Regions from separate parts of the Homo sapiens genome. Here region 1 is linked to region 2. Evidence: fine-mapped expression QTL. Tissue or cell type: cerebellar hemisphere. Region 2 holds a variant in brackets; the other region holds the start of a gene. All regions are shown on one strand. Distances are from middle to middle.

Region 1 (5,152 bases), 74 kb before region 2:
TTTTTTTTTTTTTTTTTTGTATTTTTAGTAGAGACAGGGGTTCACCACGTTGGTCAGGCTGGTGTCGAACTGCTGACCTCAAATGATCCACCCGCCTCGGCCTCCTGAAGTGTTGGGATTACAGGCATGAGCCACTGTGCCCAGCCTTTCTAATCTTAATGTTTAGTCTAACAAGTTTTTGTCATCTTCTGCATCTATTACTGTGGTATAGGCCAGAGTTTCTCAACCTCACCACTATTGTCATTTGGGGCTAGATGATTCTTTGTTGTGGTGGCTGCCAGTGCATTGTAGGAGGTTTTGTTGCACCCCTTACTCCTATACACTAGATGCCAGTAGCACTGCCCCATCCCCCAAATGTCTCCAGACATTGCCTAAGGTTCCTGGGAGTGAGACATGCAAATCTCTCCCGCTGGGAACCACTGCTTTAGATTAGAGAGCAGAAGGGACTACAGGGCTCTGGGGAGCGGTGGCAAGACTTGGAGCAGCAGTCTTAATAACACTCAGGCAGGACTTCTCTGACTGATGTGTCCCCACTCTCTTACCATGAGGACAAGTAACATAGGCCTGACTGTTCATCCCGTTGGAGGTACACAATGCCAGAGTGCTGTTCTTAGGCGTTCACCCTTGGGGCATGTGTTAGAATTATCCAGAGAGCTTTGAATGTGTCTAGGCCTATGGCAGACATCTCAAAATATTATTAACTTGAGTTGGTGGGGTAAAAGTCTTTCTCAGGTTATAAATCCGAAGAAGAGACTAAATGTGGCATCCAAAAAGAAGCCAAACTGAGAGAAAAATTAAAGACCTAAGTAGTTTTTAATTTCCTTTTCCAAGCCTTTTTGAGACCAGCTGTACCCTCTGCCCTTTCCCTAGTTTAGTTATACTAACCAAAAAATCCCTTTTTGTTTAAATGAGGAGACATTAGGTGCCACTTACTTGCAGCAAGAGTTCTAAAGCAATTGAGTACCTCCTTGGTTTGTGTGGGGAACACAGGAGATGGCACACATTGCAGATGCCACGGTGCTTTGCACATAAAGGGCTTCATGATGTGTTTTAAATAACACAGAGTAGATGATATTTGGAAAAACTTTTTTTTTTTTAAAAAAGTCCCAGCTCAAATGAAGTCTTACTCATTCCCCAGGAAGAACGAGATCTTTCTCCTCCTTGCTCTTTCTTCTCTGCTTTTGCAGTCACCCTACTGCTTTGTAATTGTTTGCAAATCTATGTTCTTTTCTAATGTTCTTTGAACTTCTGGAGGACTGGAACTCAGTCTTATTCACCTTTAAATCCTCCGTATCTAACATGCCAGCACATAGCAGGTGGTCAATAAGTATTGTTAGGAAAATAATTTGAAGAACATTCATGATTAAAGGTGGCAATAAGAGCAACCAGCCAGCATTTATTGAGTACACGCTATGCTCCAAGCATTGTCCTAAGAATTTTACTTTTTTATGACTTAATCCTTATGACAGCCCTTAATATGTTATCGTTATTACTCCATTTTACAAATGAACAAACTGAGTCAAGGCTGTACAACTAATAAATGGCAGAGTCATGATTTCGTCCAGGAAAACTGATGCCAGAGCCCTAACATGTTACACAATACATTGTGATACTTGTCACTGAAAGTATTTTGTTAAATACAGACGGAGTTAAATCATTCACTATTAGAAACAGAGGAAACTGAGATCACTGAATTCCATCATGAAATAGATACTGATGCTGAGCCAAGGATTGGAAGTGACTCAGTTCAGGTGGTTTACATAACCGTAGGCTTACCTACACGGTGTTCCTGACTCCCAGCTGGAATCTTTTAACCAAAGGCCCCACCCTCATGCAAAGTGCACCTTTTCTTTACACGTGCGCTCTCCCCTTTGGAGGTCTTGCTTTGGAAAAACCACCCCAGGTAGCAACTTGTTTCAAAGCAGATATATGCCAGGTACCACTTAAAGCCAGGTGGATCTTATCTGTTGAAATAGATCAAGAACACATGAAAGGGGACTGGGGACCCCCTACTTACACTTCAGACTTCAGCACAAACTTTCTGTCCTCAGAGAAGGCTTCTCTGGCCTCTCCAAGGTCAAGTCTGTCTACCTAAGCTCTCCTTTATTTAGCATGGTCACTTGTAATTACATATATTTTGTATGTTAATATCTGGTTAATGGTCACCTCACTTGTTACCCTTTAAGTTCATTGAGGATAGAATCCCTGTCAATTTTTGTTCCTTATATTTGCAGTGCCTCACATAGTTCCTGGCACACAATGGGTATTCAAAAAATATTTGTTAAAATCAGGAAAGAATGAACAAACAGATGAATGAATAAATGCACGACTGAAGTACCATGACAAATCATTCCTGTGGAACGCATAAGGTTAGATGCAACTCCTTTATGGTGTGATCTGAGGGGGCCCTTAAGGGCTTAATCTGCACGCTCACACACACCACTGATTAGAAATCCCCATCAGGAAAATTGTACAATCATCTATTTGGCGAGGGCTTTGGGACACTGAATGGGGGAAAAGAAACACAAAAGGTGAGCAAGCAGTTTTCAAAGGATGCTTTCAACTCCCTGGCCAGTCCGCGTGTATGTTTTCGTCTACAAAGTGTTTCCAATTACTGTGGCACTCTCGGTATCTGGATCCATCTCCAGTGAATTCCTCTGCAGCTCCTGCCAGACATATGGGATCAATCAGGGCTTCGGCGCTGGTGCGCTTGCTGCGGGAATGTTGACAGCCTGACAGACGCGGGGTTCTGGTGTCATGGAATCTCCGAGCCTTTGGCTTGATCCCGGGAGGAGAATGAGAGGGGGAGGAGGGAGATAGAGTCACAGATACAGAAAGTAGACAGGAGCGGGGAGAGGGAGAGAGGGAGAGAAGGAGGGAAGCGGGAGATTTTTCTTGACTGCCCCCTTTCCTTCAAACATTTTATAGGCTTCAGGGAGAGAGAGGAGGAGGAGAGAGGGAAGAAAAAAAGAGGAGAGCGAGAGGGGTAGAGAGCGCGCGCCGTTCCCTCCGGAGTTCCCGAGCTGCTGAGGAGTCTGGATTGTGTCTGTCCCCAGTGTCAGATGAAAGGGCGCTGAGGCTCTTGGCCGCTGCCCCGCGCCCAGCTCCGCGCACGCCCCTCTGCGAGTCCGGCCGCCCAGCGCCTCTTCCCGCCCGAGCCGCCGCCTGCGCTCCGGGGCAGCCGCTCTGTCTCCAGCGCGATGTGGCCTCGCCTGGCCTTTTGTTGCTGGGGTCTGGCGCTCGTTTCGGGCTGGGCGACCTTTCAGCAGATGTCCCCGTCGCGCAATTTCAGCTTCCGCCTCTTCCCCGAGACCGCGCCCGGGGCCCCCGGGAGTATCCCCGCGCCGCCCGCTCCTGGCGACGAAGCGGCGGGGAGCAGAGTGGAGCGGCTGGGCCAGGCGTTCCGGCGACGCGTGCGGCTGCTGCGGGAGCTCAGCGAGCGCCTGGAGCTTGTCTTCCTGGTGGATGATTCGTCCAGCGTGGGCGAAGTCAACTTCCGCAGCGAGCTCATGTTCGTCCGCAAGCTGCTGTCCGACTTCCCCGTGGTGCCCACGGCCACGCGCGTGGCCATCGTGACCTTCTCGTCCAAGAACTACGTGGTGCCGCGCGTCGATTACATCTCCACCCGCCGCGCGCGCCAGCACAAGTGCGCGCTGCTCCTCCAAGAGATCCCTGCCATCTCCTACCGAGGTGGCGGCACCTACACCAAGGGCGCCTTCCAGCAAGCCGCGGTAAGGCGCCCGCCCCTCCCGACCCGGGCCCTAGTCCCCGGGCCCTTCGACCCACCGCTGCCTGCCCGTCTCTATCCCGGGGTTCAGTCCTGGGCAAGGCATAACCACCCCAAGTCAAGCGTCCCCATCCACAAAACCAGAGTCATCGCTACCCGCCTATTATTGTTGTGGAGGTTCCAATGGGATAATGGATTTTAAAACGCTTAGAGGGATGTCAGGCTCCTTAGATAGTCGGCTTCGAGGACCCTGTTAGGAAGGGATCCTTGAAACGCTAATCACATTCACGTTTGTAGGAGCAGACGGTATCCAAGCTGAAACAGGTGAGCATGGTTTACAAAGTGTTTCTAAAGGTAGGACATGGAGTGATATAAACCTAACCCCAATTCTTTTTAAAGTTATGTTATGCTTTCAATGTAAGATTCGTGCCCTTCCTATTTTTGCTCCAATCCTTTATTAGATTTTTAATATCTGGAAGAGGAAGTCAGTTTGGGATGTCGGACTTTTGTAAAGTGTGTCTGTTTTTCTGATTACAAATTAATCCATATTCAGTGGGGGAAAAAGAAACATATAGAAATATCTAACACATAATAGCAAGCCAGTGTTTGTGGACTGAATTAAACAAAAAGTAGGGAGAGGAAAAAAAAACCCTAAAATTTCATCACTTTAAAAAAGCCACTGTTTGCAGGTTGTTGAACAGTTGCCCAGTATGTACATCCATTCATACTTTTAATATCTTGCTGTTTTGTAGCCTACATTTTTCGTTTGTTATATCCTAATTAAAATGTTCTACATTAGCTGCATACTATTCCATTGCGTGCAACAATCACTTATTGTTGGACACTTAGGATTTTTCCTTACTAAGTTATCGTGAACATAAATATTTGTGGACTCCTCTGTTTACATCTTTAGGAAGAATTTCTATAAAAGTTCCTGAACTAAAGGTTATGAACATTTGTAACTTCTTGATACTATTGTCCATTTCTCCCTTGGAGGGTTGTATAAATTTATATTCTCATCAGCAGAGTATCTCAGCAGTAAATTTGCCACATATTCACCAATATCATACTATTCTTTTTAATATCTTTGTCAATTTAAGAGGTGATGGAGGCATCATTTTAGCAAATACACATTTTTGATTTTTGAGGATGAACATTTTCCAGTACATCTACTGGACATTTGTATTTTTTCCTCTGATATTTATAGTTTTTGCCCATTTTGCCATTATAGTGCTTGTTTGTTTTTTCTTAACACATTGGCTTGTTTTTTTTTCTTAATGATTTGCAAAAGTTCTTTATATAGTGAGGCCAGTAATTCTTTTGTGTATATGTTGCAAATGTTTTTCCAGTTCACTGCCTTTTATTTTTGTTTATGGAAATGTTGTTAGATGAATGGTTTACATTTTTATACACTCAAATCTATCA
Region 2 (5,152 bases):
CAGATTTAATTATAAGAACAGTGAATAATTTTAGTTATATTATACTTTCTCAAAAATATGTGTAAGATTGAGGCAGAAATGAAAGACCTGCATAAAATCTAAAGCCTTTTACAAATATCATGTTACATTGTTAATGTTTTTGTGGATGTTGACTAATAATTGGTAAACTTGATTCTCACTTCTCCTATGCACTTTTCATAAAGCACTTATACTCATTTTCAGTTTTATCTGAATTCTGCATTTCTTTCTTTCTTTTTTTTTTTTTTTTTTTTTTTGAGATGGAGTCTCGCTCTGTTACCTAGGCTGGAGTGCAGTGGCACGATCTCGGCTCACTGCAAGCTCCGTCTCCTGGGTTCACGCCATTCTCCTGCCTCAGCCTCCCGAGTAGCTGGGACTACAGGCACCCGCCACCATGCCCGGCTAATTTTTTGTATTTTTAGTAGAGACGGGGTTTCACCATGTTCGCCAGGATGGTCTCAATCTCCTGACCTCATGATCCACCCGCCTCAGCCTCCCAAAGTGCCGGGATTACAGGCGTGAGCCACCGCACCCGGCCAGAATTCTGCATTTCTTTCTAAACAGGAAAGGATTCTTTTGTGGTTTCTCAATCTTAACTAACTAAACCTGAGTAAAAAGGTTCAACCAATGAGAACCTTACATTTAACATCAGATTTATTTTATTTTCAGTAATAGATATCACAATTTGGAGACTAATAGGAAGCACGTGCCTGGAAAAAAAAAAATCTGATTAGTCTTTAAGATGGGAACCAGAGTAGCTTCTTATATTGTCTACTACAAGTAGACTTTTCTCTTAAAAGTCTAAGTTGCTATTTTCTAAAAAGACCAAATAAATATTTAGGAATTGTGATAACATAAATGTAAGTCAAGAAATATTAATTGCAGGATTTTTCGGCATGTTGAAATGAAAAAAATATAAGTTGAAAATTCTTTAAGAAGTGTGTACCTATTAAAATGGTATTAAGTGTTCATTCTTGAGTGAAATGTTTAAGGAATAAATAGGAATTATTGCATATGTTTTGTTTTCAGTGGGGAGCAATGGAAGTTTATTAATACCAACATCTGAGAAGCAGTATAATTTGCATCTATATGAGGCACCGACTCTAATTTATTATCAGTAATAAATCCATTTTGTCTCAGGTTAGGAAAGCTGGAGTCATCTTGGCAGTTTGTTGAAGCCAAAACATTGTTTAATATGGTTTTCCAAATTTTATACATCAGAATTTATCTGATTCACCTTTTAATCCCACCTCATACTTTGCCTTGGGATACACATGAAGGACACACTCAATAAAAGTCAAAATGCAGAAGACAAGATGTTTCATGCACTTGATAGACACAATAAAGATTCTATTTGCATAAATGGGCACATTCAGGAAAAATTAAAACACGGAAGGCAAAATGTTTCGGATCATTTTTTATTAATACTTGACTTTGGTCCAAGCCATTCCAGGGATAAAAGAGGCTAGGGTTTATGATCTAATCTCTAATCTAACTCTTGCATTTTCTCTAAGGAGTAATGGATCCTAAACTTTTATTTAATGCACACAATACTTATGCTCTGCTGATTAATATAATTTGAATGGGTTCATTGTAGAATAAATTCAAACAGTGACTTCAATTGAATATGCACTTGAACATTTTGCCCCCAGCTTCCTTTCCTGGTATTTTAAGGTTGTCTTTGACGTAACTAAATGTATGCATGGTATGAACAATTGGCAAATGCAGAAAAGTAGAAGAAGAAAAAATATATCCCACCCGGAGTCTCAACAAAATTCTTGAGTCCCAAATGTTTTGTTCAAAAATCTTTAGAGATTGTTATAAGAGCTCTCTGAGAGGAAACTGAACTTTATTCTTTTGTAGGGGTTATTTCTGTCTTTTGTACGATGTCCAATGCTTGTAGGTTCTATCTATAATCTATCAAGATGAATATACGTCCCCATCATTTGGCATATTTAACAGGCACCGACTCTTTTTTCCTCTCCAATCTCTGTTCGTGAATGGAATGTGCATGCCTTCTGACTGAGAGTGCATTTTCCATGGGTCTTGACAGCTTCCCCATCTTCCTCTTTCTTTTCCCTATTTATTCTTTCCCCTACCCCTACTCCTTTCCTGCTCTGACTTCCCCTTCCCCTCACCCTGCTCTTCCTCTTCTCCTCTCCTCTCCTCTTCATCTCCTCCACCTATGTTTCCCCTCCCTTTCTCTTTCCTTTCTTCTCCCCTCCCTTCTTCACGACTTTTCCTTTCTCCTTTACGCTCCTCCCTCCTTCCCCTGCTTGGAAACCCTGATTGGAGAGAGTCTAAGTTAGAACTAGAGGACAAGAAGTGTAGGACAAGATTATAAACTCTTTCAAGAGGGTTTTCTCTAAAGAGGAGACTACGGAAGATGATAGATCAGAGGCTCCTGGAGGGTGTGGGAACTGATGGATTGAAGCACTTGAAGGAGTGATCCCAGAAGGTAAGAGGTGATTGTCAGAGACTAGGAAACTTGGATTGGTGACAGCGAGGTCTAGAGGGCATGGCAATGGTAGAAGCTGAGATAAGGTGAAGGATATGATCATTAGAAAAGAAGAGATCATTCTGTAGGTTGCCTGTTTACTCTGATGAAAGTTTCTTTTGCTGTGCAGAAGCTCTTTAGTTTAATTAGGTCCCATTTGTCAATTTTGGCTTTTGTTGCCATTGCTTTTGGTGTTTTAGTCATGAGGTCTTTGCCCATGCCTATGTCCTGAGTGGTACTGCCTAGGTTTTCTTCTAGGGTTCACGATAGCAAAGACTTGGAACCAACCCAAATGCCCATTAATGATAGACTGGATACAGAAATTGTGGCACATATGCACCATGAAATACTATGCAGCCATAGAAAAGGATGAGTTCATGTCCTTTGCAGGGACATGGATGAAGCTGGAAACCATCATTCTCAGCAAACTAACACAAGAACAGAAAACCAAACACTGCATGTTCTCACTCATAAGAGGGAGTTAAACAATGAGAATATATGGACACAGGGAGGGGAACATCACACACTGGAGCCTGTCAGAGGGTTGGGGACTAGGGGAGGGATAACATTAGGAGAAATACTTAATGTAGATGACAGGTTGATGGGTACAGCAAACCACCATAACATGTGTATACCTATGTAACACACCTGCATGTTCTGCACCTGTAC[C/A]CCAGAACTTAAAAGTATAATAAAAAAAAAAAGAGAGAAAAGAAAATAAGAGATCAGGAATATAACTCCAGGATACTGGAATGATCATTTACATAGATAAGGAAGTCACTAAGGTGTGGGTATATGTGTGTGTGAGAGAAAGAGAGAGAGAAAAAAGAGAAAGGAGAGAGAGAGAGAATTTAAAAAAGGTTATTGGATATATAATATGATACTTCAAAGGAGCTGGAAGTTTTTAGGAAGGAAGGAGAGAGAATGATCTGGGAAGACAATCAGGAGCAACAGAGACACCTCCTCACCTCCAGTCCCTGTTACAGAAGACAATATAATTTTTATTAGGGCAATCAAGTGAAGGAAAAGTTGCTCAAAAGGAAGTTTAGGATATGAGGGGATTAACTGAAACCATCGTTATTCTAGGGGGCAGGTCCAAGGGTCTATGGGGATAGATTTGGAACACAGCTACATGTGGATAACCCTGGTGGATGAGGGATAACTATAGAGCCTTGGACTTTCTAAGTGATTGCCATCAACAGGAATAGAGGGCATGATGAAATCAATGGAAATGGACTCTAACATACATTGTTGGGTTTGAGTGGGCAGTTGGAGACTCTTACCAGGAAAACTCAGAACACAGACATCGTTGGGGAACCTGCAGAGGCTGGAACAGTGTGAGTGCTCTCTGGTAGCTTCTCTGATGTAATGTTGAGGACAGAGACTCAAAGGTGGCAGAACCGCGGAAATGCAGGTTTCTCTGGATAACTCGTGGCACTTTTTCTGATGGTGATGTTGAGGCTGGCTGAGGTACGGGGGCGTTTTCAGCATCCGCAGTTTAGTGAATATCCTTCCTACTGCTTTCTCATGGTGAATTCAAAGAAGATGAAGAAAACCATGTCACAAGTTGTGCCTGCTCACTTCTCTGGCCGGGGAAATGTGCTCCTAGATAACATGCTCTACCCCGAGCACGTTTGGAGCACACACACATCCCATGATCCAAGAAAGGGGGAAGATCTTTCCCTAAAAAATTAACAAAGGAAGAGTTAATGGATGCTGGGCAGATGGAATTAGAAATTGTGTATAGCTGGTATCAAGGACCCAAATGCTGGGCAGAAGGAATTAGAAATTGTGTATAGCTGGTATCAAGGACCCAAATGCTGGGCAGAAGGAATTAGAAATTGTGTATAGCTGGTATCAGGGACCCAAATAACAATGTGTTAAGCCAATTAAGGCTTCATTTTTCTTTTAACTAAAACAAGGACAGAAGTAGGTAATCCAAAGTTGGTGTAATAGCTCCACTGTCATCAGAGAGCCAGACTTCCTATGTTTTTTGCTATACCATCATGGTGCATGATATGTTCCCACAGTATCATATACTTATACTCTAGTATGCTGGGCTACCATTCCTCATGTCTGTATTGTGGAAGAAAAGGAGAAGGAAGCAGGGAAGGGAAAGAAGTACTCTCTCAATTGAGACAGCCCCCTTTAAAAAGCTTTCCAAGGGCGGGTGCGGTGGCTCACGCCTGTAATCCCAGCACTTTGGGAGGCCGAGGCTGGCGGATCACAAGGTCAGGAGATCAAGACCATCCTGGCTAACACAATTAAACCCCATCTCTAATAAAAAAATTCAAAAAAAAAAATAGCCGGGCGTGGTAGAGGGCGCCTGTAGTCCCAGCTACTCGGGAGGCTGAGGCAGGAGAATGGCGTGAACCCAGGAGGTGGAGCTTGCAGTAAGCTGAGATCACGCCACTGCACTTCAGCCTGGGCAGCAGAGTGAGACTCCATCTCAAAAACAAAAAACAAAACAAAATAAAATAAAATAAAATAAAATAAAATAAAAAAATAAAAAGCTTTCCAGAAGTCCTGCTCAATCTCAGCTATATATTATGGGCTCTCATTAGTTGAGGTAGAGGTGGAGAGTTGTAATCTTTTAGCTGGGCATATTACTATGCTTAATAAAACTGGTGAGAATGGCTA

Evidence for each region. PIP is the estimated chance that this variant, and not a neighbour inherited with it, causes the effect.
Region 1: it holds the start of SVEP1, and the variant in region 2 is fine-mapped to the expression of SVEP1 in cerebellar hemisphere (GTEx, PIP 0.98).

What each region holds. Positions count from the first base shown.
Region 1 is chr9:110,577,592-110,582,743 of GRCh38, reverse strand. It overlaps SVEP1 (sushi, von Willebrand factor type A, EGF and pentraxin domain containing 1), which reads left to right and starts at 3,003. Exons shown (of 48, transcript NM_153366.4): 1 at 3,003-3,731. The coding sequence starts at 3,201. RefSeq lists enhancers at 3,135-3,635, 3,636-4,136.
Region 2 is chr9:110,503,884-110,509,035 of GRCh38, reverse strand. All of the region lies in intron 5 of SVEP1 (sushi, von Willebrand factor type A, EGF and pentraxin domain containing 1), which reads left to right. Among named protein-coding and RNA genes, the nearest start is that of SVEP1, 73 kb to the left of the region's middle. The variant C/A (reference allele first, on the strand shown) is at 3,185.